Regions from separate parts of the Homo sapiens genome. Here region 1 is linked to region 2. Evidence: fine-mapped QTL for protein levels in blood plasma. Region 2 holds a variant in brackets. A gene starts in the other region. All regions are shown on one strand. Distances are between the middles of the regions.

Region 1 (15,717 bases), 16 Mb before region 2:
GGCCTGACTCATGGGGCAGGGGAAAAGGAAAATAGCAGAACAGAGACCACAATGTCACCTCCTAGGGCCTTTGCCTGCCGAGACTGTGGAAAGAGCTATCGCCACTCAGGCAGCCTTATCAACCACAGGCAGACCCACCAGACAGGAGACTTCAGTTGTGGGGCCTGTGCCAAGCACTTCCACACCATGGCTGCCATGAAGAACCACTTGCGCCGGCACAGTCGGCGGCGGAGCAGGCGGCATCGGAAGCGGGCTGGCGGTGCCAGCGGTGGGAGAGAAGCCAAACTCCTGGCAGCGGAGAGCTGGACCCGGGAGCTAGAAGACAATGAAGGCCTGGAGTCTCCCCAAGACCCTTCAGGGGAAAGTCCTCATGGGGCTGAAGGCAACCTGGAAAGTGATGGGGACTGTTTGCAGGCTGAATCTGAAGGGGACAAATGTGGGCTTGAGAGGGATGAGACCCATTTCCAGGGTGATAAAGAGAGCGGAGGCACTGGGGAAGGACTGGAAAGGAAGGATGCCAGTTTACTTGACAACTTGGACATCCCAGGTGAGGAAGGTGGTGGCACTCACTTCTGCGATAGCCTCACTGGGGTGGATGAAGACCAGAAGCCAGCCACTGGCCAACCCAACTCCTCTTCCCACTCTGCCAATGCTGTCACTGGCTGGCAGGCTGGGGCCGCTCACACATGCTCTGACTGTGGGCATTCTTTCCCCCATGCCACTGGCCTGCTGAGCCACAGGCCCTGCCACCCACCAGGCATCTATCAGTGCTCCCTCTGCCCGAAGGAGTTTGACTCTCTGCCTGCCCTCCGCAGCCACTTCCAGAACCATAGGCCTGGGGAGGCGACCTCAGCACAGCCTTTCCTCTGCTGCCTCTGTGGCATGATCTTCCCTGGGCGGGCTGGCTACAGGCTTCACCGGCGCCAGGCCCACAGCTCCTCTGGCATGACTGAGGGCTCAGAGGAGGAGGGGGAAGAGGAAGGAGTGGCAGAGGCAGCCCCTGCACGCAGTCCACCACTGCAGCTCTCGGAAGCAGAGCTGCTGAATCAGCTGCAGCGGGAGGTGGAAGCGCTGGACAGTGCAGGGTATGGGCACATCTGTGGCTGCTGTGGTCAGACCTACGATGACCTGGGGAGCCTGGAGCGTCACCACCAAAGTCAGAGTTCTGGGACTACTGCAGACAAGGCTCCCAGCCCCTTGGGAGTGGCAGGTGATGCCATGGAGATGGTCGTGGACAGTGTCTTGGAGGACATAGTGAATTCTGTCTCTGGAGAGGGTGGAGATGCCAAGTCTCAAGAGGGAGCAGGCACCCCCTTGGGAGACAGCCTCTGCATCCAGGGTGGGGAAAGTTTGTTGGAGGCTCAGCCCCGCCCCTTCCGCTGCAACCAGTGTGGCAAGACCTATCGCCATGGGGGCAGCCTGGTGAACCACCGCAAGATCCACCAGACTGGAGACTTTCTCTGCCCTGTCTGCTCCCGCTGCTACCCCAACCTGGCTGCCTACCGTAATCATCTGCGGAACCACCCTCGCTGCAAAGGCTCTGAGCCCCAGGTTGGGCCCATCCCAGAGGCAGCAGGTAGCAGTGAGCTGCAGGTTGGGCCCATCCCAGAAGGAGGCAGCAACAAGCCCCAGCACATGGCAGAGGAGGGGCCGGGGCAAGCAGAAGTCGAGAAGCTCCAGGAAGAACTTAAAGTGGAGCCCCTGGAGGAAGTGGCCAGGGTGAAAGAAGAGGTGTGGGAGGAGACCACTGTGAAGGGGGAGGAGATAGAGCCCAGGCTGGAGACTGCCGAGAAGGGCTGCCAGACTGAAGCCAGCTCTGAGCGGCCCTTCAGCTGCGAGGTGTGTGGCCGATCCTACAAGCACGCCGGCAGCCTCATCAACCACCGGCAGAGCCACCAGACCGGCCACTTTGGCTGTCAGGCCTGCTCCAAGGGCTTCTCAAACCTCATGTCCCTCAAGAACCACCGGCGCATCCATGCAGATCCCCGACGTTTCCGCTGCAGCGAGTGTGGGAAGGCCTTCCGCCTGCGGAAACAGCTGGCCAGCCACCAGCGGGTCCACATGGAACGGCGTGGGGGTGGGGGCACCCGAAAGGCGACTCGGGAAGATCGGCCCTTCCGCTGTGGGCAGTGCGGGCGGACCTATCGCCACGCCGGCAGCCTCCTGAACCACCGGCGCAGCCACGAGACGGGCCAGTACAGCTGCCCCACCTGCCCCAAGACCTACTCCAACCGCATGGCCCTGAAGGACCACCAGAGGCTGCACTCAGAGAATCGGCGGCGACGGGCTGGACGGTCCAGGCGCACAGCTGTGCGTTGCGCCCTCTGTGGCCGCAGCTTCCCTGGCCGGGGATCTTTGGAGCGGCACCTGCGGGAGCATGAGGAGACAGAAAGGGAGCCAGCCAATGGCCAGGGAGGCCTGGATGGCACAGCGGCCAGTGAGGCGAACCTGACTGGCAGCCAGGGACTAGAGACCCAATTGGGTGGTGCTGAGCCAGTACCCCACTTGGAGGATGGAGTCCCAAGGCCAGGGGAGCGCAGTCAGAGCCCCATCAGGGCAGCAAGCTCAGAAGCCCCAGAGCCACTGTCCTGGGGTGCAGGGAAGGCAGGTGGGTGGCCGGTAGGTGGGGGACTGGGGAATCATAGTGGAGGCTGGGTTCCTCAGTTCCTAACTAGGTCAGAGGAGCCAGAGGACAGTGTCCACAGGAGTCCTTGCCACGCTGGTGACTGCCAGCTCAATGGACCTACTCTGAGTCACATGGATAGCTGGGACAACAGAGACAACAGCTCTCAGCTGCAGCCAGGGAGCCACTCCTCTTGCAGCCAGTGTGGCAAGACTTACTGCCAGTCAGGCAGCCTCTTGAACCACAACACCAACAAGACAGACCGACACTATTGCCTGCTCTGCTCCAAGGAGTTCTTAAATCCTGTGGCCACAAAGAGCCACAGCCACAACCACATAGACGCCCAGACCTTTGCCTGTCCTGACTGTGGCAAAGCCTTTGAGTCCCACCAGGAACTGGCCAGCCACCTGCAGGCTCATGCCCGGGGCCACAGCCAGGTGCCAGCCCAGATGGAGGAGGCCAGAGATCCCAAAGCCGGGACTGGGGAGGACCAGGTGGTTCTCCCTGGTCAAGGGAAAGCCCAGGAGGCCCCATCAGAAACCCCCAGAGGCCCAGGAGAGAGTGTGGAGAGAGCCAGGGGAGGACAAGCGGTGACGTCCATGGCGGCTGAGGACAAGGAGCGGCCCTTCCGCTGCACCCAGTGCGGGCGCTCCTACCGCCATGCTGGCAGCCTGCTGAACCACCAGAAGGCCCACACCACAGGGTTGTACCCGTGCTCCCTCTGTCCCAAACTTCTCCCTAACCTGCTGTCTCTTAAGAACCACAGCAGGACCCACACGGACCCCAAGCGCCACTGCTGCAGCATCTGTGGCAAGGCCTTTCGGACAGCTGCCCGGCTGGAGGGCCACGGGCGGGTCCATGCACCCCGGGAGGGGCCTTTCACCTGCCCCCATTGTCCCCGCCACTTCCGCCGCCGAATCAGCTTCGTGCAGCACCAGCAGCAGCACCAGGAGGAGTGGACGGTGGCCGGCTCCGGTAGGGGGCATGAAGGGTCCCAGGAGGAGGTGGGCACACAGTGGAGGGGGAAGTCCAGCCCCAAAGTCGGTGGGGGAGCAAGGAGTGAGAGGAGAGAGCCCCGGGGATTCTAAGAGGTGGGTGGGGGCTTGGCTATGGGGTGAGAGAAGTAGCTTGAGGATGTGCTGAGCTGAGCACCCGCAAGTCAGGTATAACAAATAGCAGGGTGGGTTGGGCAGCACGTGGGGGCGTGGTCAGGCCGAGGCTGCTACCTGGGCTCCTCCATTACACTGTAGCCAGAATGGAATGGTCTTTCTGTTCAGGGGAAGGTCACTGGGTACCCCCTGGCTGCTGTGTCTGGAAACCCTCCTGAGTCAGCCAGTAAAGTAATGACTTCCAGAGAAAAAGAGGAAGCCATTGGTTTGGTCTAGGTTCCATTCTTTCCTGGAGCAGGCCGGGTGCCAGGGAACAAGGGATGGGGCATGGGCTCCACGGCTTCCCTGCTGACTTGGCCACGGAAACTGGTTCACTGGTTGGCACCCTACTCCCTGTCCCTCTTTCCCTGCGCCTTGTCTCTGCTGCTCCTCTCCTTGGAAACTAGACCTCTGGTCCTTCCCTGTCAGTGTTGCTCCCATCTCTTCTCTAACCTTTATTCAGCCCCTTTTCCCTCTGCTGCCAACGGCCTTTTTAGGATCCAACCAAACCACCCTTTCTACCTGCGCACCCTGCCACCCTCTGCACACCTTTAACTGGAGGACTGAGTCACAGATAATTGTTTCCTTGAAGTCCAGGCCCAGCTGCAGCAACAACAGTCATTAGCCCGTGTCACATCCCTGATCAGAGGGCATCTCCGTGGGGAATCGCCTCCACCCAGCACTGCTGGAAGCCGCAGCTGCCAGGGAGTGGGGCGGCCGGTTCCCTCAGCAGGACCTGGGCTGGCCTCTCCACCTCCCCTAGTAGAGGCGGACCCATTCCATCTAGTGGCCACCGAGGGTGGGTGGCCCTGAGATGGTGGGCCCTTGACAGGCCTTGTCAGAGCAGAGGGCAGGTGGGAGTCACCTGAAAGCTGAAGGAATGGCTTTAAGGATAGAAGATTTCTCATGACCTCAAGGGATATGAGGGAGGAGCCAGTTTGCCAGGGCTGGGAAAATAATTAGGAGGCCTAGAATCCCTGTTCTCATCTGGGCCTCCGGGGCCAGGGGCAGGGGAATGGCCTGCAGGGCTGGGAGGGGGTACACGCTGTGCGGGGTCTGCCCCTCAGTTGGTGACCTCCTCTCTCTCTCCCCCCAGGAGCCCCAGTGGCACCAGTGACGGGCAGAGGGGACTTGCCATTGCCCCCTCCACCCACCCCCACGACCCCACTCCTGGATCCTTCACCCCAGTGGCCTGCAGACCTCAGCTTCTCCCTCTGAACTTCAAGTCTCCAAAGATCAGAATCTGGGGGAGGGAGCGCGTGCAGGGAGGGGCTTGATCTCCACATTTTCTCAGGAGTAGTTCGGGCATCCCCATATCTTCTCCTCTCCCCTTGTGAAGAGGACCCAGATCTGGCTTCTTTCCCAAGGAGGGGGTGGGGTGTTCCTCGCGTCCCTGTCCTTGAAGGACCTCCTTCCCCCAGCCTCATCACCGTGCTCTTCTCAGCGCCACCCTCAGCAGCCAGATTGCAACACCAGGGAGAGGCGGATGCAGAGCCCCACCGGTGGGAAAGTTGCCTGTGGAAGGGAGCCTTTTGCTACAATTTGTAACTTATTTTCTAAAGTCTATTTTGTAACAATTTATTTAAGTTTAAAAAAAGGAAAACTGCTGCCCCCCAAAAAAAGAAATTTTCAAAACAACGTGGCTGGCGTGATTGTATCTGAAAGGGTAAAGGAGGAGGAAAGCTGAGACGCCTGCTTGGTAGCAGAGTTGGGTGTGGGAGTGTCCACAGACACCCCTGTCCTGCAGGGTGGGGAGTGGGCACCTGTGGCCCCAGGCAGGTTCCTTCCCACAGCTGCTGGGCTTCTGGGCCTGCCCTGGTGCCTGGAATCACACATGACAGGGTGGGGAGGACAGGGGCAGTAATGCCATTTGCCTGCCTGCATTCTCTTGTCCTGAGAATGGCCAGGTCCCCTGTCAGCAGCTGGTTGGTTGGCCTGTGGGGAAGGAAGGAGGGTGGAGTTGTCCTCATCCTCACGGCTTTGGTCCCTCCCTCCCTCCCCATTCCTCGAAGGAACAGGGTCTGTCTTGGCCGCCATGACAGATGAGAATACTGAGGCTCAAAGCGGTTGAGCAGCCTGCTCCAAGTCACACGATGACAAAGAACCAGAATCTGAATCAAATGGGTCTGCCTGTTGCTCCACCCTACCCAAGGCAGCTGGAGTGGGTTAGAACGGCACGTTCTCACTGGAGAGAGAAGGGTCCTGGAGAGGCAGGGTTTGGCAGGAGGCCCCGGGGCCACATACTTATGTTGGCCAGGCAGCTTCCAGGCTCAGCCTCGGGCTCTGGTTCCTCGGCGAAGTAGACCTGCCAGTCCAAACTGCTGACCCAGTCCTCATAGGCAGGGAGCGCGGTGAAGACCGCCGGCCTGGCGGGGCCTTGGCAAGCATCTCCGAAGCTGTGCAGCCCGGCCAGGAACCATGTGCCCCTCACCTCATGCACCAGTGGTGCCCCAGACAGGCCCTGTCAGGGGTCAGGTGACACTGGGTGACTTTTTATAGGCAGCTGTGCAGGACGGTAGAGCAGGCTAGGGAACCTCTGGCTGTTTGGGGGCTAATTGGCAAAAAGGCTTAGTTTCAGGTGGGAGGTGGGTCCAGAGGCCAAGCCTGGAAGGTCCGTTCTTGAGCTATTGGGTGAGGGGATGCCAGGGGCCTGTTAGGTAAGGTGTGGGGGCCTGGGGCTCACCTCACAGCTGGGCAGCTCACCCACAGCACTGGTACACACCATCCCCGGCAGAATAGGGCTGCCATCACCCCCAGGAGCTGCATGCAGCCGGCTGCAGGCCCTAGGCCCCAGGAGGGTCACGGGCACTGTCTGGAGGGAGCTGATGCCTGTGGAGCAAGGGAAAGCTGGCTGCCCCGGCCTGCAGGTTGGATGGACAGCAGCCCTGGCCCTGTGCCCACCTACCTGCTCCTGGGCGGGCCCGTCCCAGAACCCAGCCACGCTCCCCATCAGGCAGGTGGTGGTCAGGATAGGGCAGGCAGAGGGGCCGCAGGCTGGCTCCCAGTGTCACAGGCTGGGCCAGCAGCAGGAGGGCCATGTCGTAGCCCCCCTCAGGGTGGGTGTAGGCTCCATGCAGGATGAGCTGCTTCAGGCCCCACTCCTCCGGTCTGGTCCCCAGCCCTACGCTCCATTCCTCTGGGGCCTGGCGCCTGTGCAGAGGCAGTGTGGACGGCACCAGGTGACAGGGCTGCCGGCAGGGGCAGGGGGCACAGCAGAGAGGGATCCAAGACTCACCCAATGAAGCAGTGGGCAGCAGTTAGCACCGCCTCCTCTGACACCAGGGCTCCGCCACAGGCCAGCTGTCCCTGGTGCATCAGCCTGGCCTCCCAGGGCCATGGGGAGGGTGCTCCTGCCTGGGGACCTGCTGTCCTCAAGGATCCACAGGCTGAAACAGATAAGTGCCTCATCTGACTTCTTGCTAAGCACTTCCCACTTCCCATCAAATCCTCACAGTAGCTTTTGAAATTGAATTTTGTTCCCCTCATTACTGAAGGTAACCAAAGTTCCAGAGAGGTTAAGAGACTTCCTTGCTCTGTAACTACAGGCAAGTGGCAGACTTGCGATTCGCAAGCCAGGGCCTGAGCTTTTAGCCCTGTTGGTCTGATGGGACCCCTGTCCCAGCCTCGTGGGAATGCCCCTACTTGTCACTCCCCTGCTCCACCCGTCTGCACCCTCCAGGATGGGCCTGCCTCCCGTATTCCTGACTCATTAGTGCATCTCTTATCATCAAGACATAATATCCGTCCCAGGAATTACTTTGCATTCAATTTGCATGCCAGTCACTTAATGCCGGAATTCTGACTGGGAGCCCTACCCTGTGCAGGCTCGCTGGGTCCCTGCTGGAAGCCTGCCACTTCCCCAGAAACCCAAGTCAGGTCTCAGAGATTCCTCTTCTCACCTAAACTCCAAACCTGTAGAGTTCCAAAGTGCCTGTGCCTCTCAGCCCTAACAGGGCTGTTCCCATCCCAGGGGGTGAAAGAGCCCCCTAATTAGGCTCGGCGGTGTGGATGCCTATGCCAGTTCTCTAGTCCTAACTGAGGTTTGCTTCACAGTGGCTTCTGCCCACTCCCAGCATGCCCCACTCGTACCTACACAGCTGTCCTCATCACTCATCTCCGGGGTCTCTGGGCTCTGGGCCAGGAAAGCTGCCCCCTGAACTCGAGCCTGCAGCCAGGAACTGTGAGCAGCTGTGTTGGTCAGCAGCACAGGAGCGTCCTCCTGGGCACAGCTTGATGCAAAGCTGATGATGCCAGCCTGAACCCAGTGTCCGTCAGGCTCGAGGCACAGCACAGGGCCCCCGGAATCTCCCTGGAGCCAGGCAACAAAGCCAAGGACAGATGCCTGAGCCCAGCTATGGCAGACACCCTCTGATTGCAGGTCTTTCCCCCAGTCCTGTGAGTCCAACCCCCAGCCCAGGGTTAGGCCCCTCCCCTTCTGCTCCTTCTCTTCTCCCTATCAGACCTGACAGGGGCCCTGCACCCCAGGCTGGGGGCCCCCACATAGCATCCCAGGCCGGGCCGGGTTGGACAGGTGTCGCTGGTGCAGCTGGTTGTAGATACAGTTACATGTGGGGCGACTGATGAGACGCAGGCGCAGATTGCGTAGGGTCCCAGGAGCTGGTGAAAGAGACGGGGCTGGGGCTAGAGTCTGGGATCTGGGAAGCAAGGGAGACTGGAAGCCAGGACAGTTGGGAGCTGAGACTGTGACGCTGGGCAAGCAGAGTGCCTCTCCGAGCTTCAGTCTGGGCCAGCACTTACCATCACTGGTGTCCTGATCCCAGCCAGTGGCCCAGCAGGAGGCTCCAAAGGGGAAGCGATGGGCGGGCTGGGGCAGGCAGAGGGGTGTGTGGGTCGTGGGGTGGGCGAGCTGCAGCAGGGCCAGGTCTGAGCCCTGGCTGTAGTGGTTATAGGCCCTGGGCAACTGCAGGGCAGCCACCCCCACCTCTTCGGCCCCAGGGCTGAGTCCCTCACGCTGCAGAGAACCCAGGACCACTGACCAGGAATTCAGTTCTGTTGCTGCTGCCCTGGAAGGGGAAGGACAAGGTCCAGGCTGCTGAGTGCAAGGGTAGACAGTGACACCATGGGAGACCCCACAGGTAGGTGGAAGATAGCAGAGAGCACTCCACGGCTTTTTCTTTTTGAGGTAGGGTCTCGTCCTGTCGCCCAGGCTGCAGTGCAGTGGCATGACCATGACTCACTACAAGCCTTGACCTCCCAGGCTCAAGCGATCCTCCCACCTCAGCCTCGTGAGTAGCTGGGACTACAGGCGTGCACCACCATGCCTGGCTAATTTTACAGTTTTTGTAGAGACATGGTCTTGCTATGTTGCACAGGCTAGTCTTGAACTCTTGGGCTCAAGCGATCCTCCCTCCGTGGCCTCCCAAAGGGCTGGGATTACAAGCGTGAGCTACTGTGCCCGGCCTCAGTCTGTGACTTTAAGCGAGGTCATTCCCTTGCAACCTGAGTTTTCTGATTTGTAAATCTTCTACCATGAAAGGTGGTTGTTACAATTAACTTGACAATATGTACCCAGTACATGGCAGATTCTCAGTAAATGGTTCTTTATTATTACTCTAGAGGCAGGGACTAGCCTTGTGGGGCTTGAGACAAATTGTCCACTCCCCAGAGCCGGAGACCCTGCCTGACCCCAGCCATGACTTACTTTTCAAAGCAGTGGGCAGCAGTGAGGACCCAGGTGTCTGCCACCAGGGAGCCGCTGCAGATGTGGGCTCCTTGCCTCCTCACACTGGCCTGCCAGGGCCACTCGCCAGGGACTGTGTTGCCCTCCTGAGGCTTGGGGGGGCCGGGGCCACGCTGTCCACAGGCTGTGGAAAGGAGTTAGTCACACTGACAGCAGATACCTGTCCTGACCTCACCCCAGTCCCAACCCAGACCCAAGTAAGACCTAGGCCCCGTGTCCCCAGACCTTACCACGCTGAGCGGCTTGAAGACCTGGGAAGAGAGAGACACAGGTAAGATGCAGGGACTCCAGGCCTGCCTAGCTTTGGGGAGGAGAGGGGATGGGCTGGGGGGCGGGCCCAGGGTCCTTGCCTGTGACTCTGATTACCTTACCAGCCCCTCCCAGAATGAAAATATTTATATGAGGCCGAGACAGCTTTTATTGGAACCTATTCAGTGTGCACACTCAGTAATTAATTCTCCTTCAGCTGTGCTCAGCACTCTGGGGCTTGGGGTTCAGCTTGGGAGTAGGCCAGCCCTCCTCCAGGCTTCAGAACCCCCAACTCCTGCCCCCGCCACTGAGTCAGCCAGGCGGCCTGTGTGTGTAGAGAGCATTAGCTTAATTGTCCTCTTAGCAGCAGAGGCCTAAGAGGAAGGATTAGAGGCCTGCATCATTTCCAAGTGGGGAGGGCCCCAAGAAATGGAGACTTACCTCACCCTGGTCTAGAGACTCAGTCTTCCCCACCTTCCCAGAAACTGTCTGAGAGCCCGCCAGAGAGAGGGCCCCTGCCCACCGCCCCTCACAGGCACACAGGCACCCCATGAGACAGCTGAGCCAGGCTGCCCAGAGGATGGATGAAAAGAAAGGGAAACTGAGGCCAGAGGAGCCCAGAGTTTGCCTGACGTCATTGTGGAAGTCGAGGGGGAGGCAGGCACAGGACACACGCAGGCAGCACCTCACACACACACAAGACCACAGGCCCCGCCAACGCAAACTGCAGCTGGCCCGAGAAAATCTCATCCATGTTGACACAGGTGGCCACATATACCACCCCACAGAGTCCTACGGAGTTACATCCCCACTGGTGGACTGTCGCCCACAGGCGGTCCCCCCACCAAGAAGCAGGGACTGCTGGGGCAGAGATGGCCCCTGAGCCCCCACCAGGCCACACCCATACCCCAGCACATGGCGGCTTACCCTCCATGAGGACTGTGGCACCCGCGATGAGCAGCACTGGGCCCCAGCACCACTTCATGCTGCCCCGGGCCACTCTGCCACCTGTGCTCCACTCTGAGAGAGGCCACCTGGGTCTCCCTGGCTCCACCTCTGCTCCACCTCCAGTTGGCTAGGATTCAGCTGTCTGCTTGCCCTAGCCAGCAGTTCCTAGCTCTGGGGCTGTGGCTGTGTGACCCTAGGCTTGTCACCACCCCTCTCTGGGCCTTAGCCGTGGAGCCAAATTGTCTGGGTTTAAATCTGTTTCCTTACTACTTGAGTGGCCTGGGAGAGCTAACCTGCCTGTGCCTTGTCTGAGAAACAGTTGTTGAATGGAAAACGTCTCAATGACAGCCTGGCACAGGGCAAGCTCACTCCCAGCATGAAAGTGCCATCCTGGAACCATGGAGGGCACGTGGGCAGCTCCTCCCAGTCCCCACTTTTCATTTCCACTCCCCCACTTCTCTTCCAGCCAGGGCTAGGTGGGTTTCACATGCCTTCTCCCAGGTCTGCTCAGAGACAGTGTGTGCCAGGCTGAGTGGTGAGGAGCCAGCACCCACTGCTGCTTGCTCGCTGTGAGCCTTTGGCAAATCCCAGTATCTCCCTGGGCCTGCTGGCTTCCTGGGAAACAGGGTGACAGCGGTGCCCACCTTCCTCATAGGCGCAGAGGACTCGGTCAGGCGGGAAGAACACTTTGGCGCGTGCCTCCTCTTCCTCTTCCCACTCCTAACTCAGGCTGGCCCAGACCATTCAAGAACCCTGACCCCAAGACAGAGGCAGCTGTGGGTAAGGTTTAGCATATATTATAGATGCTGGCCGGGCATGGTGGCTCACGCCTGTAATCCCAGCACTTTGGGAGGCCAAAGCAGGCAGATCACCTGAGGTCGGGAGTGCGAGACCAGCCTGACCAACATAGAGAAACACTGTCTCTACTAAAAATACAAAATTAGCCAGGCCTGGTGGCGCATGCCTGTAATCCCAGCTACTCGGGAGGCTGAGGCAGGAGAATCACTTGAACCTGGGAGGTGGAGGTTGTGGTGAGCCGAAATTGTGCCATTGCACTCCAGCCTGGACAACAAGAGCGAAAGTCCGTCTCAAAAACAAACCAACAAAAAAAAAAGCATATAGATGCTGGAGCCAGATGGACCAGGTGGATTCAAATCCTGAGAGCCTCCTGCAGTAGCTGTGTGATCTCAGGCATACTAATTAGCCACTCTGTCCCTATCATCAAGATAGGGATAATAATAGTACCCACCTCATAAATCACTGTAAAGATTAAACGAGTTTAACACGTTAACACAAGTTTTTTTTTGTTTTTTGTTTTTTTTTGGAGACGGTCTTGCTCTGTTGCTCAGGCTGGAGTGCAGTGATCATGGCTCACTGCAGCCTCAACCTTCTGGGCTCAAGCAGTCTTCCCGCCAGCTTCCCGATTAGTTGGGACTATAGGTACATACACCACCATGCCTGGCTAATTTTTTTTTTTTTTTTTTTTTGTAGAGACAGGGGTCTCACTATTTTGCCCAGGCTGGTCTGGAACTCCTGGCCTCAAGTGATCCTCCTGCCTTGGCCTCCCAAAGTACAGGGATTACAGGTGTGAGCCACTGCACCCTGCCAACACAAGTTCTTAAACAGTGCTTGGCATGTAGGTAAGTGGTCAGGGCATAATAGGCAAAACAAAAACCTTCACAACCTGGCCCTGACCCTCCAAGGCTACCAATACTGGCTTGGAATGGTCGATAAGGCAACTGGAGGGGTTAAAGTTAAACTCAAGGAAGAACTTCCCAGCAAGCATTTACAGAACCAGAAGGGCAGCCTGCCCTTCCAGGTGTGTGCTCAGCCTTCCCAGGAGAGGAGGCCTGGCTCCTGTGGGCAGCAGGAGCGAGCTGCCAGCCTGTTTCCTGGGGGTGGGGGCCAATGGTGCCCCAGGCCTTGCTGACTCCACACACTGGAGATGAGACTACCCATAACCACCCTTCCCAGCAGGCCCTCCACTCTCCCTCTGACTCACCCTTCCCAGCTCCAGAGAAGGCAACACCGAGGGAGGCCCAGCACCACAGTCCATGGCAGACACATGGTTCAGACTTGGCTGATTGATCTAAGAAACTTTATTGCTCAGAACCTTCCCTCCCTGGGCAATGGAAAGAGCTTTGGAGACCAGCCCATGGGGACAGAGTCAGAGGCACTGGGTGTAAAAAAGAGCGAGCGTGTGGCACATTTGGTCCATTGTCATGTGCGGGTATGGCAGGAGGAGGGGGTAATCTAGAAGCCCCACATCTAGGGCCTTCTAGGGACCCAGATATGCCCCCTTAGGCAAGGCTCACATGCCAAAGCAAAGCAGATGAGGTCAGCCTGGCTTGGGTTGAGGGCTCAGTGCCTCTTAGCCTTGCCCTGGGGTTCTTGGACCTTCCGGAAACTGAGCCACATCAGGCTCACGTTGATAGCATAGGTGGTGATACAAACAATGCAGAAATCATAGAGCACGAAGAACAGGATCCAGGCCAGGTAGACAGAACCAGCGAGAGACACCAGGGAGCTCAGCAGCATCAGGACAGAGGCCCAGCGTGTCCGCAGGCAACCTGCAAGGCAGAAGAGGGTCCGGTGTGGGCTTCAGGCACTGGCCACCTCCCGAACACTCCATGATGTCACTGCACTACCTAGATGCCAGGAGCTGCTGGGAAGGGTCTCTAAAACAAGAGGCTCCAGGGCAGATGTGGTGGCTTACGCACGTATTCCAAACACTCTGGGAGGCCGAGGTGGGAAGACTGCTTTAGGCTAGGAGTTCAAGACCAGCTTGGGCAACATAGAAAGACCCGATCTCTATCAAAAATTTAGAAATTCAGCTGGGCACGGTGGCTCATGCCTGTAATCCCAGTATTTTGGGAGGCCAATGGGGGTGGATCACCTGAGGTTAGGAGTTCGAGAGCAGCCTGGCCAACATGGCAAAACCCCATCTCTAATAAAAATACAAAAATTAGCCGGGTGTGTTGATGGGCACCTGTAATCCCAGCTGCTGGGGAGGCTAAGGTGGAGAATCGCTTGAACCTAGGAGGTGGAGGTTGCAGTGAGCCGAGATCATGCCACCACATTCCAGCTTGGGCAGCAAGAGCAAGACTTCGTCTCAAAAAAAAAATGCCCGGTGAGGTTGACTCACGCCTGTAATCCTAGCACTTTGGGAGGCCAAGGCGGATGGATCACCAGGTCAAGAGATTGAGACCATCCTAGCCAACATGGTGAAACCCTGTCTCCACTAAAAATACAAAAATTAGCTGGGCGTGGTGACACGCGCCTGTAGTCCCAGCTACTCAGGAGGCTGAGGCAGGAAAATTGCTTGAACCCGGGAGGCAGAGGTTGCAGTGAGCCAAGATCGTGCCACTGCACTCCAGCCTGGTGACAGAGCGAGACTATGTCGCAAAAAAAAAAAAAAAAAAAAAAAAAAAATTAGCTGGGTGCAGTGACATGCCTATAGTCCTAGCTACTCAGGAGGATCGCTTGAGCCAGGTTACAGTGAGCTATGATTGTGCCACTGCACTCCAGCCTGGGCAACAGAGCAAGATTATTTCTTAAAAAAAAAAAAAAAGAAGGCTTCAACAGGTCCCCTCCAAGGGACTGGTCTCTGAAGCTCTTGCCATTGCCCAGGGAGGGAAAGTTCTGAGCAATAAAATTTCTTAAATAAATCGGCCAAGTCTGAACCATGTGTCAGCCAGGACCATGGTGCTGGGCCTCCCTCAGTGATGCCTTCTCTGGAGCTGGGAAGGGTGACTCAAAGGGAGCGTGGGAGCCTGCTGGGAAGGGTGGTAATGGATAGTCTCATCTCCGGCATATGGCATCAGCAAGGCCTGGGGCGCCATCGTCTTCCACTCCCTTGGTTCCTCTCTCTGTTCTTATGGGACTAGATACAAATTTTCCTGCTGAGCACTAAATGAGACAAAAGATAGCTCATGCTCAGCTTCTCCTTAAAAAGGAATTTCGGCATCTTTTCCACAAAACTGGGGTGTTGGTGGGGCATGGTAGCTCACGCCTGTAATCCCCCCAGCACTTTGGGAGGCTGAGGCAGACAGATTGCTTGAGACCAGCCTGGGCAACATGGCGAGACACCATCTCTACCAAAAAAAAACAAAAACAAAAATTAGCTGGGCATAGTGGTGCACGCCTGTGATTCCAGCTGCTTGGGAGGCTAAGGTGGGAGGATCCCTTGGGCAGGGAGGCAGAGGTTGCCATGAACTGAGATCACGCCAGTGCACACTAAGGGCATCCTAGACCTCACTTTGGGCAACAGAGCCAGACCCTGTCTCAAAACAACAACAAACAAAAAACCTGGGGACCTAGGATGTCTTTAAGGGCCCTTCAGCCTCTAACAGTACTTAAACCAATTAAAAGACTCCTGTTAGTTACCTCCCCACATCCCCACCCGCAGGACGCTCCGTGATGAGCAGCTAGCTGGCTGTCAGCTGTGTGGATCACCAAGATTGCATGGAGTGGGGCTGAGCTGACCAAGGGGGATGAGGGGCGGGGCGGGGCGGGCAGGGAGGGGGCGGAGCCACTCACCTAACAATAGCTGTAGTGTGTAGAAGATGCAACCGAATATGCTGTTGGATTGATTGAGGATGCTGTCCTGTCCCAGCACATGCTCCACCAGCCCGAAACCCCTGCCCCACCTGGCAGAGGGGTGGGGTGGGGTGGAACCAGGTTAGGACTGTCAACCCAGTGCCTTGGACCCTGCCCGAGAAAGGTGATTTCCAAGAAGCCACCTGGGCTATCCTCTGTTCCCCGACCTCCCATCCTAGTCCAAGGGTCGATGATCTCCTGGCACCGGGCACCTTTGGCCACGTCAGGATTCCATGTCACTGACCCTATCCTCCCCTCTCCCCAGACCAGGCCCGGACGTGGCTACTCCGTAGGCCCTGCTTTTCATCTTAGACCTTAAGTAAGTCTCTTTTTTTTTTTTTTTTTTTTTTTTTTTGAGACGGAGTCTCACTCTGGCCCAGGCTGGAGTGCAGTGGCGCGATCTCGGCTCACTGAAACCTCCGCCTCCCGGGTTCAAGCGATTCTCCTGC
Region 2 (15,717 bases):
CTAAAGTTCTAGAACAATGTGAATCAAACCTCACAGTGAAATGCCCTTAATGGTATTCAACAGCTATGCCCTCACCCCCAGACCAGCCTCAAGGCAAACCACAACAGCCATGCCCTCACCCCCAGACCAGCCTCAAAGCAAACTACACCCCAGTGTGTGTGGGGGCCAAGGAGACTTTTACTTCACCCTTGGAAGGTTCACTGAAAAATCAGCTCACAAAAGGTAGGTTAATTGGAGAAGAAGCATGACATGTATACACAGGAGACTTCCAAATGAAGACCCAAAGATGCAGGGGAAGTTGTCCATTTTTGCGCTTAGATTCGACAAAGTCTGGACAGCCATGTAGAAATAGGATTGGGCAAAAAGGGTCTGCGCTAACGCTCGCTAATAGACAGAGTGGGGAAACCCAGCAAGATCTGTCGGTCTGGATTCTTCTTGGCCTCTCCAAGCAGCATTCCTTCCCTCTAGGTATGGGGCAGGATCCTCTTTCCAATAGGGATCTTATGACCTACAGTCAAACAGGGTAGGCCAGTTTTTTCACAGAATATTTTTAGGTTTTATGGCTGGCTTGGGGGAAAAAGGGTTTTGGTGTCTATGATCTGCCTTGAGGAAGAGGGATTCTAGTTTCTATAACTAGTTCCTGGGGAGAATGGGCCTAAAAGACAGGAGGGCAGAAGGTCAGTGAAAACCTTTAGCCTCTGAGGCTGCTTCTGCAGCCTTCGTCTTGGGGTATCATTTTCTGAGCTCCAACACATGCAAAGGGGTGATATCTGGAAGTTGCTCATTGCAGACTAAGATGGGTAAACTGATGAAAGGAGTCACTTCAAGCCACAGCATCACTGTCCTAGGCCAAAGGAACACTGCCCTTTGTTGAAAACTTGCTGCATTAGGAATTTCCCCTATTCTCTCCTAAGGATCATGAAATCTCAATAATGGCAAAGATATCTAGATCTTGTTGCATGCCAGTCAGAGTTCTAAGTATTTTATATATATTAAATCAATTTTATGTCAATAATTTTATGAAGGTGAGGCCATTATCTCCCATTGTACAGGTGAGGAAACTGAGGCACAGAGATTGGTAACTTACCCAAGGTCACATACCCTAAATGGTAAAGCCATTGTTAGAACCAAGGTGGTTTGGCACCACAGTACACACCCTCAACCACTGTGACATGCTGCCTCTTGGCACCGCAGTACACACTTTCAACCACTGTGACATGCTGCCTCTTTTTGTTATTGTCGTTAATTCAATTTTTTAAAAAATTGAGGCGGGGGCTAGAAGCGGTGGCTTATGCCTGTAATCCCAGCACTTCGGGAGGCCAAGGTGGGCATATCACTTGAGGTCAGGAGTTCAAGACCAGCCTGGCCAACATGGCAAAACCCCATCTCTACTAAAAAATACAAAAATTAGCTGGGTGCGGTGGTGGGTGCCTGTAATCCCAGCTACTCAGGAGGCTGAGGCAGGAGAATCGCTTGAACTGGGAGATGGAGGTTGCAGTGAGCTGAGATCGCGCCACTGCACTCCAGCCTGGGCGAAAGAACGACACTCTCCCTTAAAAAAAAAAAAAATGAGATGGGGTCTTGCTACATTGCCTAGGCTGGTCTCAACTCCTGGGCTCAAGAAATCCTCCCACTTCTACCTTCCAAAGTGCTGGGATTACAGGTGTGAACCACCATGCCTGGCCCTGTGTGTGTGTGTGAGACAGGGTCTCACTGTCGCCCAGGCTGGAGTACAGTGGTGCAATCTCGGCTCACTGAAACCTCTCCCTCCTGGGTTCAAGTAATTCTTGTGCCTCAGCCTCCCGAGTAGCTGGGATTACAGGTTCCTGCCACCACGCCCAGCTGATTTTTGTATTTTTAGTACAGACGGGGTTTCACCTTGTTGGCCAGGCTGGTCTTGAACTCCTGACCTCAGATGATCCGCAAGCCTTGGCCTCCCAAAGTGCTGGGATTATAGGTGTGAGTCACTGTGCCCTGCCCTTTTTTTTTTTTTTCAAATTGAGGCTGCTGCCTTTCAGAGGGGGTGCCATCTGAGCTATGCTGAGCTATCCCTTGTCACATCCCCCCTCCCTTCCTCTTCATTCAAGGAATTCTGATGAGGCTGCCATCTTCATTGGTAACCAGCAGTGGAGACTTTGACTAGGTATGAGCCAGTCGGACATCAGCCTTGCCCTGACCTCAGTGATGTGGGCGGGACCCAGGCTGGGGCTGTGATGCAGTGAGAACCAGTGAGTCACGATGAGACTTTTCCTGAGGCCTCTGAAGTTCTCTGTTCTCTGCTGATTTTGGATGGCAGGGAGTTCAGCAAGGATCTACTGGAGCCCTTTCACTACATGAGGGGAAGCTGCCTGAAGGGAAGTCGACAAAAACAGAGAAAATAGCAAAAAGGGGACCTGGGCTGCAGACCAGGACCCACAGCAGTGACTGGGGCATCACCAAGAGCACATAGTGTTGGACTCATGTCACATAATATAAATGGGCCCTGAGACTGGGAAGGGCAATATTGCCATCACCTCATTTGAATCCTGAATCCAGCCACTCCTGAAGTGTCAAATACCTCCACACTCCATGAGCCAATGTATATGTTTTTAAAAGGCAATATGAGTGGGGTTTTCTGCCACTTGAATAATAATGCATCCTAATCAAAACAATCTCAATGAGCCTAGCAAAAACCGAGCCAGAAAGCCCATTAGTTACCAATGCTGGGATGGAACAGTAAGTCTGTCAGTCAAAAATGAAACTGTGAATCAAGGTCCTCACCATGCTAAACAACAGAGAAAGAGCCAGGAACATGTTTCTAAAATCCTCAACCATTCTCAAGCTTTACATTTTTGTACAAATGGAGAATGGCAACAGCACAGATAATCCCTCACAACTGCATTAAAGGATTCACTTTCATGATTGCATTTCACTCTGGTTAATGTTAAAATGACTATGTCCCATCCTCAGCAGACTCCGGTGCATGGTCCTCAGCCCTGCTGAGATGGCATTTAAGTCAGCCAGGCATCCAAAGGGAACCCAGAGACAAGGGGACTTTAGCCTCATCTATGTGTTCATCTCTTATGAAGGAAGGTCATATAATTGAAAGTTATCTTTAAAAAGTTGAAGTCAGGGGCTGGGCATGGTGGCTCACGCTTGTAAATCCCAGCACTTTTGGGAGACCGAGATGGGAAGATCACTTGAGCTCCGGAGTTCAAGACCAGAGGCTTGGCAAAATAATGAGACCACATCTCTACAAACATGAAAAATAAAAAAATTATCCAGGTGTGGTGGCGTGTGCCTGTAATCCCAGCTACTCAGGAGGCTGAGGCAGGAGGATCACTTGAACCCAGAGGTCAAGGCTGCAGTGAGTTGTGATCACACCACTGCACTCTAGCCTGGACAACACAATGAGACCCTGTCTCAAAATTAAAAATAAAAATAGGCCAAGCATGCTGGCTCACACCTGTAATCCCAGCACTTTGGGAGGCCGAGACAGGCGGATCATCCGAGGTCAGCAGTTCAAGACCAGCCTGACCAACACAGAGAAACCCCGTCTCTACTAAAAACAAAAAAAATTAGCCAGGCATGATGACATATGCCTATAATCCCAGCTACTCAAGAGGCTGAGGTAGGGGAATCACTTGAACCCAGGAGGCAGAGGTTGCGGTGAGCCAAGATCACACCATTGCGCTCCAGCCTGGGCAACAAGAGCTAAACTCCATCTCAAAAATAAATAAATAAATAAATAATAAAAATAAAAATAAAAAGTTTGAGTTAAAGAACAAGTCATATAATTACACTATCTTAGATGAATGTTTTTATACTTTTTTTTAAAGTAGTGGAACCCTCAAATAAAACCTGATATGAAACACTGTAATAAACATGTGTTATGTTTTGCCTTCTTTGGGTGTAGAATCTAATATAAGGTAGCTTGCTTCCTGGGAACCACATCCTATTCACATCTGAGTGTGGTTCCAGCACATGGTCCTGGCCTGGCCATGGGGGCAAATATAATAATTTGCTTCCTGAGCTCTCATGGTTCTTTTTCCCTTCATAATTCTGGAAAGACACAGCAGTGGTATAGTTTTTTGATCTCCTAGAATCCACCTTGCAGGAAAAAAAAAAAAAAAAAAAAAGGCAGAGCAACTAGATGGTAAAACCAAAAACCTATGAAGAGCATTTTCAACAAAGCCAGATTATAAGGTATCCCCATGAACTGTAAAAGGTAAGAGCATGACGACAACAATTCCCACCACTATAAGATCTATATGATATTCGCATTTATATAGAATAATGCAGAGGGAAGAGATAGGGCACCTCAGGGGCCAGCAAACAGGTCTTCGCAGGAGGGCAGAGTGAGCCAAACTGAGAAAAGCAGCTAAAGTGGGAGGTGTTCTGCATGCTTCAATATGGGTGAGTACAAGGAGTCTCTGATAAGACTGGAGGGGTTGGAGCAATTGAGGCAACATCAACTTTTTTTTTTTTTTTTTTTTTGAGACGGAGTATTACTCTGTCACCCAGGCTGGAGTGCAGTGGCGCAGTCTCGGCTCACTGCAAGCTCCGCCTCCCTGGTTCACCATTCTCCTGCCTCAGCCTCCCGAGTAGCTGGGACTACAGGTGCCCGCCAACATGCCCGGCTAATTTTTTTAATTATTATTATTTTTAGTAGAGATGGGGTTTCACCGTGTTAGCCAGGATGGTCTCAATCTCCTGACCTTGTGATCCACCCGCCTCAGCCTCCCAAAGTACTGGGATTACAGGCATGAGCCACCGCGCCCGGCCGCAACATCAACTTTTAAAGCAATTGTCTTAGTCCTTTTGTGTTGCTATGAAGAAAGACCTGAGGCTGAGTAATTTATTAAGAAAAGAGGTTTATTTGGCTCACAGCTCTGCAGACTGTATAAGAAGCATGACGCCAGCATCTGCTTCTGGTGAGGCCTTAGGAAGCTTCCACTCATGGCTGAAGGGGAAGGGCAGCCAGCATGGGCAGAGATCACATGATGAGAGAGAGCAGCAAGAAGAGAGAGGAGGAGGCACCAGGCTCTTTATAACAACCTACTTTCTTGGGAACTAGTAGAGTAAGAACTTACTCATTACCACAAAGAGGTCACCAAGACATTCATGAGGGATCCACCCCCATAACCCAAACACCTCCTGTTAGGCCTTGCTGCCAACGCTGGGGATCAGATATCTTTTTTTTTTTTTTGAGACGGAGTCTCGCTCTTTTGCCCAGGCAGGAGTACACGGCACAATCTCGGCTCAAGTGATTCTCCTCCCTCGGCTTACTGAGTAGGTGGGATTACAAGTGTGAGCCACCACGCCCAGCTAACTTTTGTATTTTTAGTAGAGACAGGGTTTCACCATGTTGGCCAGGCTGGTCTCAAACTCCTGGCCTCAAGTGGCCTCCTAAAGTGTTAAGATTACAGGCGTGAGCCACTGCCCGGCTGGGGATCAAATTTCAACATGAAGTTTGGAGGTTTAAATATTCAAGCTACAGCACTAATCAACCAAGCTCCCTTCCACAAAACAGATAAACAGTATAAACTAGTATTTTGAAACTAGCTAAAAGACATTTTGAAAGATACAAAGAACAACATACATACGTAAATCAGAACTAGAAAAATATAGCAATTAGGTGATAAAACTCAAGGAAAAAATAGTAATAAATAAAAAATTTATTTCAGAAATGAAACTAAACCAGAAGGAAAACAAAAGTAAATAAATAAGCTGGGCACAGTGGCTCACACCTGTAATCCCAGCACTTTGGGAGGCTGAGGCAGGAAGATTGCTTGAGCTCAGGAGTTTGAGCAACATAGTGAAACCCCATCTCTACCAAACATTAAAAAAAATTAGCCCGGCATGATGGTGTGTGCCAATAATCCCAGCTATTCCGGTGGCTTAGGTGGGAGGATCACTTAAGCACAGACTTCAGTGAGCTGTGATTGTGCCACTGTACTACAGACATAGTGAGGCCCTGTCTCAACAACAACAACAAAAAAGTAGATAAATGCTACAAGTATTGCCTGATAAGAAATAGAAGGTGAAAAAAATTAAAATTGAAAATAAGGAAAAAAGAAAACAAAAAGTATGTGCAAAAAAGTGACAAATATTGAAGCCATGCAAATAAGATCTCTGAAAATAATTAAAAATCTAAGCTATTGGAACTCTAAATTATTTTGAGCCTTAGAGGAATGTTACCTGACAGGCAACTGTAACTTAGGCAGCTGTAACCCTTTGCTTCTGATTATAGATTAGTCTTATTACTTACCTACATTGTTTTGTAAAATGTTTCAAATGACTAAAGGGCATCAGGAAAGACTCTTCACTGTTGATCTTCATTATAGATTGACTTCCCTCTTACCTTTCTCACATAGACTTTTTGGCCATCACATTGTCATAAAATGGAATGCTAAATACCTTAAATTGGAAAGGAGGGCCAGGAGGTGGCTCACACCTGTAATTTCAGCACCTTGGGAAGCCTAGGTGAGAGGATTTTTTGAGGCCAGGAGTTTGAGACCAGCCTGCTCAACAGTGAGATCCTATTTCTTCTTATTATTTTTTTAAAAATTAACCAGACATGGCGGCAAGCACCTGTAGTCCCAGCTACTCAGGAAGCTCAGGTGGGAGGATCCCTTGAACCTGGGAGGTCAAGGCTGCAATGAGTCATGTTTGCACCATTGTACTCCACCCTGGACGAAAGAGGAACATCCTGTCTCAAAAATAAATAACTATGTAGGAAAGGAAATGAAAACCAGTTGTAAAGAAAAGAAACCAAGCCATATAGAAAAGGAAAGAAGCTGTAACTAAATGGTTGTTAACTCATGAACCAGCCTCATATAGAAAATGATCCTACTTCTTTGTTTTCTGCCTACTTAAGCAAGAACTTAACTCTCAACTTCAGAACACTGACCCCATTTCCCTACACGCTGTGTCTCCCAGATAGTCATTCCCAACATTTTGCTTTAATAAACTCTTTAAAACTGGATTCTGGGCGGGGCACGGTGGCTCACGCCTGTAATCCCAGCACTTTGGGAGGCCGAGGCAGGCGGATCACGAGGTCAGGAGATTGAGACCATCCTGGCTAACATGGTGAAACCCCATCTCTACTAAAAATACAAAAAAATTAGCTGGGCGTGGTGGTGGGCGCCTGTAGTTCCTGCTACTCGGGAGGCTAAGGCAGGAGAATGGCGTGATCCTGGGAGGCGGAGTTTGCAGTGAGCTGAGATAGTGCCACTGCACTCCAGCCTGGGTGATAGAGTGAGACCCGTCT[CAA/C]AAAAAAAAAAAAAAAAAAACTGGATTCTGATCCTTTTGATTATTTCAGATTGGCAGTTCCAACATATTATAAATAGAAGTAACTGCAAAAGAAAACCAGATTAAAGGAACAATGTGGCAAATACCAAAAACTATAATTGGTTTTGTTTGTTTGTTTGTTTTTTGAGACACAGTCTCACTGTATTGCCCAGGCTGGAGTGCAGTGGTGTGATCTTGGCTCACTGCAACCTCCACCTCCCAGGTTCAAGCGATTTTCCTGCCTCAGCCTCCCAAGTAGCTGAGATTACAGGTGTGTCCCACCACACCCAGCTAATTTTTATATTTTTAGTAGAGACAGGGTTTCACTATGTTGGCCAGGCTGGTCTTGAACTCCTGATTTAAGTGATGCCCCAGCCTCAGCCTCCCAAAGTGCCAAGATTACAGGCATGAGCCACCATACCCAGCTCAAAACCTATAATTCAAGACAACTTTCTTAAAGATTACATATTGGCTGGGCATGGTGGCTCATGCCTGTAATCCCAGCACTTTGGGAAGCCAAGGCAGGTGGATCACTTGAGCTCAGGAGTTGGAGACCAGCCTGGGCAACATGGTGAAAACCCATCTCTACAAAAAATACAAAAAGTAGGTGGGTGTTGGGGCACACACCTGTAGTCCCAGCTACTCAGGAGGCTGAGGCAGGAGGATTGCTTGATCCTGGGAGGTTGAGGCTGCAGTGAGCTTATTGCACCATTCCCTCCAGCCTAGGTGACAGAGTAAGACCCTGTCTCCAAAGAAAGGAAAGTGTGAGCCAAGATTTTGTATCTGAGTATAAGGGACACAAACACTAACAACCTCTCAACGTGCAAAAACTCAGGCATCTTGCTTATAATCATGGTCACTTTGAGGGAGGGATGGTTATGATTGGGATGTGGTATGTGGATAGTTTCAGAGGTAGCTGGAAGTTCTATCTCTAGTCCTGAGTTGTAGCTGTAAGGGTGTTCATTTTTAATAATTTACCATATGTATGTTTGGTGTTTTTTAAATATCTGTGTTATGTTATATAATAAAAAGTTTAAAAAATAATGATGAAATAAAATATATAATAATTACATTAGGGAAACTTGAATATGGACTGGGGTAGTATTATGAAACTATTGTTAAATGTGTACATATAATATAATGGTATTGTAGTTATGGAGTAGAATGTTCTTATTTTTGGAGATACATATTGAAGAATTTACTATAATTTATTTTAAAGGCTGGGCATGGTGACACATGCCTATAATCCCAACTACTCAGGATGCTGAGGCTAGAGGATGGCTGGAGCTCAGAAGGTTGAGGCTGCAGTGACCCCTGATTGCATCACTGCACTCCAGTCTGGGCAACAGAGCGAGACTCTGCCTCAAACAAACAAACAAAGAAACAAGCTTGGAGTGTCACCAGCAAGATGGTGGACTAGAAAGCTTCAGGTCCTTGTTTCCACTATGGAAACATTAAATGAACAACTAGAAACTGGCTAAAATAACTTAATAGGGACTGTGGAAATCAATAAAAAGACCAGCAACTGAGTGAATGCACATCTAAGAAAAAGCCACATTAAAAATGGAAGGAGCCTGGCATGATGGCTCAGGTCTGTAATCCCAGCACTTTGGGAAGCCGAGGTGGGCGGCTGACTTGAGCCTATGAGTTTGAGACCAGCCTGGCCAATATAGTGAAACTCCATCTCTACTAAAAATACAAAAACTAGCCAGGCATGGTGGCACATGCCTGTAGTCCCAGTTACTCAGGAGGCTGAGGCAGGAGAATGCTCAAGCCTGGGAGGTAAGAGGTTGCAGTGAGCTGAGATCACACCACTGTGCTCCAGCCTGGGCAACACAGCTAGACTCTGTCTCAAAAAAAAAAAAAAAAAAAAAGGAAGGAAGTTTCATGTTTTGTTTACTGTATTAGTTTGTTTACACATTGCTAATAGAGACATACCCAAGACTAGGTAATTTATAAAGAAAGGAGGTTTAATAGACTCATAGTTCAGCATGGCTGGGGAAGCCTCAGGAAATTTACAATCATGGCAGAAGGGGAAACAAACACATCCTTCTTCACATAGCAGCAGCAAGGAGAAGTGTAGAGCAAAGGGGGCGGAAAGCCCCCTGTAACACCATCAGATCTCGGCCGGGCACAGTGGCTCACACCTGTAATCCCAGCACTTTGGGAGGCCAAGGTGGGTGAATCATGAGGTCAGGAGCTCAAGACCAGCCTGGCCAACATGGTGAAACCCCATCTCTCCTAAAAATACAAAAAATTAGCTGGGCGTAGTGGCGGGCGCCTGTAATCCCAGCTACTCAGGAGGCTGAGGCAGGAGAATCACTTGAACCTGGGAGGTGGAGGTTGCAGTGAGCCAAGATTGCGCCACTGCACTCCAGTCCAGGCAACAGGGTGAGACTCCATCTCAAAATAAATAGACAAGTAAATAAATAAATAAATAAATCCATTAGATCTTGTGATAACTCACTCACTATCATGAGAACAGCATGGAGGTAACCACCCCCATGATTTAATTACCTCCCACTGAGTTCCTCCTACGACACATGGGGATTATGGGAACTACAGTTCAAGATGAGATGTGGGTGGGGACAAAGTCAAACCATATCATTCTGCCCCTGGCCCCTCCCAAATTTCATGTCCTCACTTTCAAAATGCAATCATGCCTTCCCAACAGTCCCTCAAAGTCTTGACCCATTCCAGCATTAACTCAAAAGTCCAAGTCCAAAGCCTCATCTGAGACAAGGCAAGTCCTTTCTGCCTATGAGCCTGTAAAACCAAAAGCAAGTTAGTTACTTCCTAGATACAATGGAGGTAGAGGCATTGGGTAAATACACCCATTCCAAATGGGAGAAATTAGCCAAAACAAAGGGACTACAGGCCCCATGCAAGTCCAAAATCCAACAGGGCAGTCACTAAACCTTAAAGTTCCAAAAGATCTCCTTTAGCTCCATGTCTCACATCCAGGTTATGCTGATGCAAGGGGTGAGTTCCTACCACCTTGGGCAGCTCCACTTTTTTGGCTTTGCAGGGCACAGCCCCCTCCCGGCTACTTTCATGGGCTGGTGTTGAGTGTCTGCAGCTTTTCCAGGTGCATGGTGTAAGCTGTCGGTGGATCTACCATTCTGGGGTCTGGAGGATGGTGGCCCTATTCTCACAGCTCCATTAGGCAGTGCCCCAGTGGAGACTCTGTGTGGGGGCTCCAACCCCACATTTCCCTTCCACACTGCCCTAGCCGAGGGTCTCCATGAGGGCTCTACCCCTGCAGCAAAATTCTGCCTGGACATTCAGGTGTTTCCATACATTCTCTGAAATCTAGGCAGAGGTTCCCAAACCTCAATTCTTGACTTCTGTGCACCCACAGACTCAACACCATGCAGAAGCTGCCAAGGCTTTGGCTTGCACCCTCTGAAGCCATGGCCCAAGCTGTACCTTAACCCCTTTTAGCCATAGCTAGAGTGACTGGGATGCTGGGCACCAAGTCTTGAGGCTGCACGCAGTAGGGGGGCTCTGGACCCAGCCTAGGAAACCATTTTTTTCTCCTAGGCCTCCTTCCAGGCCTGTGATGGAAGGAGCTGCCATGAAGGTCTCCGACATGCCCTGGAGACATTTTCCCCATTGTCTTGGTCATTAACATTTGGCTCCTTGTTACTTATGCAAATTTCTGCAGCAGGCTTGAATTTCTCCTCAGAAAATGGGTTTTTCTTTTCTACTGCATCCTCAGGCTGGAAAATTTTCAAACTTTTATGCTCTGCTTCCTCTTGAACACTTTGCTGCTTAGAAATTTCTTCCACCAGATACACTAAATCATCTCTCAAGTTCAAAGTTCCACAGATCTCTAGGGCAGAGGCAAAATGCTGCCGGTCTCTTTGCATAGTAACAGTGACCTTTGCTCCAGTTCCCAACAAGTTCCTCATCTCCATCTGATCACACCTCAGCCTGGACTTCATGGTCCATATCACTATCAGCATGTTGATCAAAGCCACTCAACAAGTCTCTAGGAAGTTCCAAACTTTCCTACATCTTCCTGTCTTCTGAGCCTTCCAAGTCTCTATGAAGTTCCAAACTTTCCCACATTTTTCTGTCTTCTTCTGAGCCCTCCAAACTGTTCCAACTTCTGCCTGTTACCCAGTTCCAAAGTCGCTTCCACATTTTTGGGTATCTTTACAGCAGCGCCCCACTCTCTGTGGTACCAATTTATTGTATTAGTCTGCTCTCATGCTGCTAATAAAGACATACCTAAGACTGAGTAATTTATAAAGAAAAGAGGTTTAGAGGCTAGGTGCAGTGGCTTCATGCCTGTAATCCCAACACTTTGGGAGGCTGAGGCGGGTGTATCATGAGGTCAGGAGTTCAAGACCAACCTGACCAACATGGCAAAACCTTGTCTCTACTAAAAATACAAAATTAGCCAGGCTTAGTGGTGGACACCTGTAATCCCAGCTACTCAGGAGACTGAGGCAGGACAATCGCTTGAACCCAGGAGGTGGAGGTTGCAGTGAGCGGAGATCATGCCATTGCACTCCACCCTGGGCAACAAGAGCAAGACTCCATCGGCAAGGCAAAGCGTTTAGGTCAGGCACGGTGGCTCACGACTGTAATCTTAGCACTTTGGGAGGCTGAGGCAGGCAGATCACAAGGTCAGGAGATCGAGATCACACTGGCCAACATGGTGAAACCCCCGTCTCTACTAAAAATACAAAAAAAATTAGCTGGGTGTGGTGGTACATGGCTGTAGTCCCAGCTACTCAGGAGGCTGAGGCAGGAGAATTGCTTGAACCCGGGAGGCAGGAGAATTGCTTGAACCCGGGAGGCAGAAGTTGCAGTGAGCCTAGATCGTGCCATTGCACTCCAGCATGGCGATGGAGCAAGACTCCATCTCAAAAAAAAAAAAAAAAAAAAAGAGGTTTAATTGACTCACTGTTCAGCATGTCTGGAGAAGCCCCTCAGGAAACATACAAGCATGGTGGAAGGGGAAGCAAACACGTCCTTCTTCACATGGTGGCAGCAAGGAGAACTACAGAGCAGAGCAGGGGAAAAGCCCCTTATAAAACCATCAAATCTCGTGAGAACTCACTTACTATCATTAGAACGGCATGGAGATAACCACCCCCATGATTCAATTACCTCCCACTGGGTCCCTCCCATAACATGTGGGGATTATGGGAGCTACAGTTCAAGATAAGATTTGGGTGGGGACACAGCCAAACCATATCACTTGCCCTACCTGTGTTTATGCCACCGAACTCCAGCTTGGGTGACAGAGTGAGACCCTGTCTCAAAAAAAAAAAAAAAAAAAACCAAGAGCAACAACAACAAACCCTCAAACAATGGAATTGGCTGGAGCATTTCTTCATCTCTGAGAGGCTCTGACCATAATAGGGTTCTGGATACTCTAGACTAGTACAAGATTGTCAGGTCTTTGTAAAATTTGTATTTTTCTCATATTTTTTGGTATACTCTGTTTCCCCAAACTGTTCAAAAGCTGAGATCCTCTGCTCTCTGTGTCCCGAGGCAACAAGAAAGGAGAGCTCTGCATTGGTGGCCAAACTGTCTAACCAAGTATCTAATCCAGCAAGCTGAGTACCTGAGTCTAAGGCAAAAAAGAAAAGCTAAGGCTGGGTGTGGTGGCTCACACCTGTAATCCCAACACTTTGGGAGGGTGAGGCAGACAGATCACGTGAGGTCAGGAGTTTGCAACCAGCCTAGTCAACATGATGAAGCCTCATCTCTACTAAAACTACAAAAAATTAGCTGGGCATGGTGGCACGTACCTGTAGTCCCAGCTACTCGGGAGGCTGAGGTGGGAGAATGGCGTGAACCAGGGAGGCGGAGCTTGCAGTGAGCCGAGATCATGCCACTGCATTCCAGCCTGGGTGACACAGGGAGACTCCATCAAAAAAGAAAGAAAGAAAGAAAGAAAGAAAGAAAGAAAGGAAGGAAGGAAGGAAGGAAGGAAGGAAGGAAGGAAGGAAGGAAGGAAGGAAGGAAGGAAGGGAAAGAAAGAAAAGCTGGGAGCTGGAACCAGAGCCTTGCAGCTAGATGAACACATCCAGCTCATCCCCAGCTTATGAGCTGGCACTTTTCTTTGCACTTGTAGGGAAGGAGCCTGTGGCCAGCAGCCCCTGGCCTCATCTGTCTGGGGCTTGCTTGCATCACTGCCGTATCATCTATCACAAACAGTCCTCAAAAGCCTATCCTTGGCTGGGTGTGGTGGCTCATGCCTGTAACCCCAGCACTTTGGGAGGGTGAGGCAGGCCAATTACCTAAGGTCGGGAGATCAAGACCAGTCTGACCAACATGGAGAAACCCCGTCTCTACTAAAAATACAAAATTAGCCAGGTGTGGTGGCTCATGCCTGTAATCCCGGTTACTCAGGAGGCTGAGGCAGGAGAATTGCTTGGACCAGGGAGGTAGAGGTTGCAATGAGCCGAGAAAACACCATTGCACTCCAGCCTGGGCAACAAGAGCGAAACTCTGTCTCAAAAAAAAAAAAGCCTATCCTCCTCTCCTGTCCTGGAATCTGGCTCTATGTTGGCCCCTTTCAGCCACGCTGGGACGCAGGGCACCAAGTCCCTAGTCTGCACACAGCACGGGGACCCTGGGCCTGGCCCACCAAACCATTTTCTCCTAGCCCTCCGGGCCTGTGATGGGAGGGGCTTCCATGAAGGCCTCTGACATGCCCTGGAGACATGTTCCGCATTGTCTTGGGGGTTAACGTTTGGCTCCTACTTACTTATGCAAATTTCTGCAGCCGGCTTGAATTTCTCCTTGGAAAATGGGTTTTTCTTTTCTATTACATGGTCACTGCAAATTTTCCAAACTTGAATGCTCTGCTTCCACTATAAAACTGAATGCCTTTAACAGAACCCATCTCACTTCTTGAATGCTTTGCTGCTTAGAAAATTCTTCTGCCAGATACCCTAAATCATCTCTCTTTGGAGTTCAAAGTTCCACAAATCTCTAGGGCAGGGGCAAAATGCCGCCAGTCTCTTTGCTAAAACATAACGAGAGTCACCTTTGCTCCAGTTCCCAACAAGTTTCTCATCTCCATCTGAGACCACCTCAGCCTGGACCTTATTGTCCATATTGCTATCAGGCTTTTGGTCAAAGCCATTCAACAAGTTTCTAGGAAGCTCCAAACTTTCCCACATTTTCCTTTCTTCTTCTGAGCCCTCCAAACTGTTCCAACCTCTGCCTGTTACCCAGTTCCGAAGTTGCTTTCACATTTTCGGGTATCTTTTCAGCAACGCCCCACTCTACTGGTACCAATTTACTGTATTAGTCCATTTTCATGCTGCTGATAAAGACATACCTGAGACTGGGAAGAAAAGTAAGTTGTTTTTTTTTTTTGAGACGGAGTGTTTCTCTTTTGCAAAGTAAAAATATGGTATTATAATCTTATGAGATCACCATTGTATACATGCTCTGTCATTGAAACGTTGTTATATGGCACACAATTGTATGTAAGGTGCTGAAAGAGAAAACCTGTCACTGATAATTCTACACCCAGCAAAACTGTTCTTCAAAAACAAAGAAGAGACTGGGCACAGTAACTCACACGTGTAATCCCAGCATTTTGGGAGACTGAGGCAGGTGGATTACTTGAGCCCAGGAGTTCAAGACCAGCTTGGACAACATGGTGAGACACCGTCTCTAAAAAATAATAATAATAATTGGCCGGATACAGTGGCTCACGCCTGTAATCCCAGCACTTTGGGAGGCCAAGGTGGGCGGATCACCTGAGGTCAGGACGAGACCAGCCTGGACAACATGATGAAACCCTGTCTCTGCTGAAAATACAAAAAATTAGCCAGGCGTGGTAGCAGATGCCTGTAATCCCAGCTAATCGGGAGGCTGAAGCAGGAGAATCGCTTGAATTTGGGAGAGCCGAGATCGCACCACTGGGCGACAGAGTGAGACTTTGTCTCAAAAATAAATAAATAAATAAATAAATAATAATATTAAAAATGAAACACAAAGGAGAAAATAGACATTTCTAAATAAACAAAAGCTGAGGAAATTTGTTATCACTAGACTCACCCTACAAGAAATGCTAAAGGGAATCCTTCAAGTTGAAATGCGATGACACCAGACAGTAACTCAAAGCCACATGAAAATATAAATTTCCATAGCAAAGGTAAATAGACAAATATGAAAACCAGTATTACTGTAATTTCTGTTTGTAACTATACTTAGGGGATGCTGAACACATCAATGTAGTGGGAGGGTGGCATGCTCAAGAGAGGGCATGGAAGCTCTGTGCCCCTCCCAGCCTCCCACGCCTTGTTCTTTGGCTGTTCTTGTTTTATTCTTTAAAACAAAACTGTAATAATGATTATAGCACTTTCCTGAGTTGTGTGAGTAATTCTAGTGAATTATTGAATACAGGGGGTAAGTCATGGGAACTCCCGAATTTTTAACCAGCTGGGCAGAAGTGTGGGTGCC

Direction of the effects. Positions count from the first base shown, and alleles are read on the strand shown. Strength reflects both the effect of a copy and how common the allele is.
In carriers of allele C in region 2, the plasma level of the protein whose gene starts at base 10,840 in region 1 tends to be higher than with CAA alone (moderate association).

What was found. PIP is the chance, under the fine-mapping model, that this variant and not a neighbour inherited with it causes the effect. The UK Biobank Pharma Proteomics Project read protein levels with antibody pairs (Olink). The fine-mapping took linkage between variants from a reference panel, not from the people measured, so its PIPs are less certain.
Region 1: it holds the start of PRSS53, and the variant in region 2 is fine-mapped to the plasma level of the PRSS53 protein (UK Biobank, PIP above 0.99).

What each region holds. Positions count from the first base shown.
Region 1 is chr16:31,078,104-31,093,820 of GRCh38, forward strand. PRSS53 (serine protease 53) reads right to left here and starts at 10,840. Exons shown (of 11, transcript NM_001039503.3): 1 at 10,649-10,840; 2 at 9,703-9,723; 3 at 9,434-9,596; 4 at 8,530-8,795; 5 at 8,234-8,388; 6 at 7,861-8,080; 7 at 7,007-7,157; 8 at 6,677-6,921; 9 at 6,455-6,600; 10 at 6,016-6,232; 11 at 5,334-5,706. The coding sequence starts at 10,706. The coding sequence ends at 5,687. It overlaps VKORC1 (vitamin K epoxide reductase complex subunit 1), which reads right to left. Exons shown (of 3, transcript NM_024006.6): 2 at 15,209-15,318; 3 at 12,751-13,239. The coding sequence ends at 13,031. It overlaps ZNF646 (zinc finger protein 646), which reads left to right. Exons shown (of 3, transcript NM_014699.4): 2 at 1-3,598; 3 at 4,868-6,093. The coding sequence ends at 4,989. RefSeq lists enhancers at 10,517-11,017, 14,919-15,627.
Region 2 is chr16:46,857,862-46,873,578 of GRCh38, forward strand. No RefSeq gene overlaps it. Among named protein-coding and RNA genes, the nearest start is that of GPT2, 19 kb to the right of the region's middle. RefSeq lists enhancers at 2,056-2,350, 6,706-6,835, 11,465-12,071, 12,072-12,677. The variant CAA/C (reference allele first, on the strand shown) is at 7,253.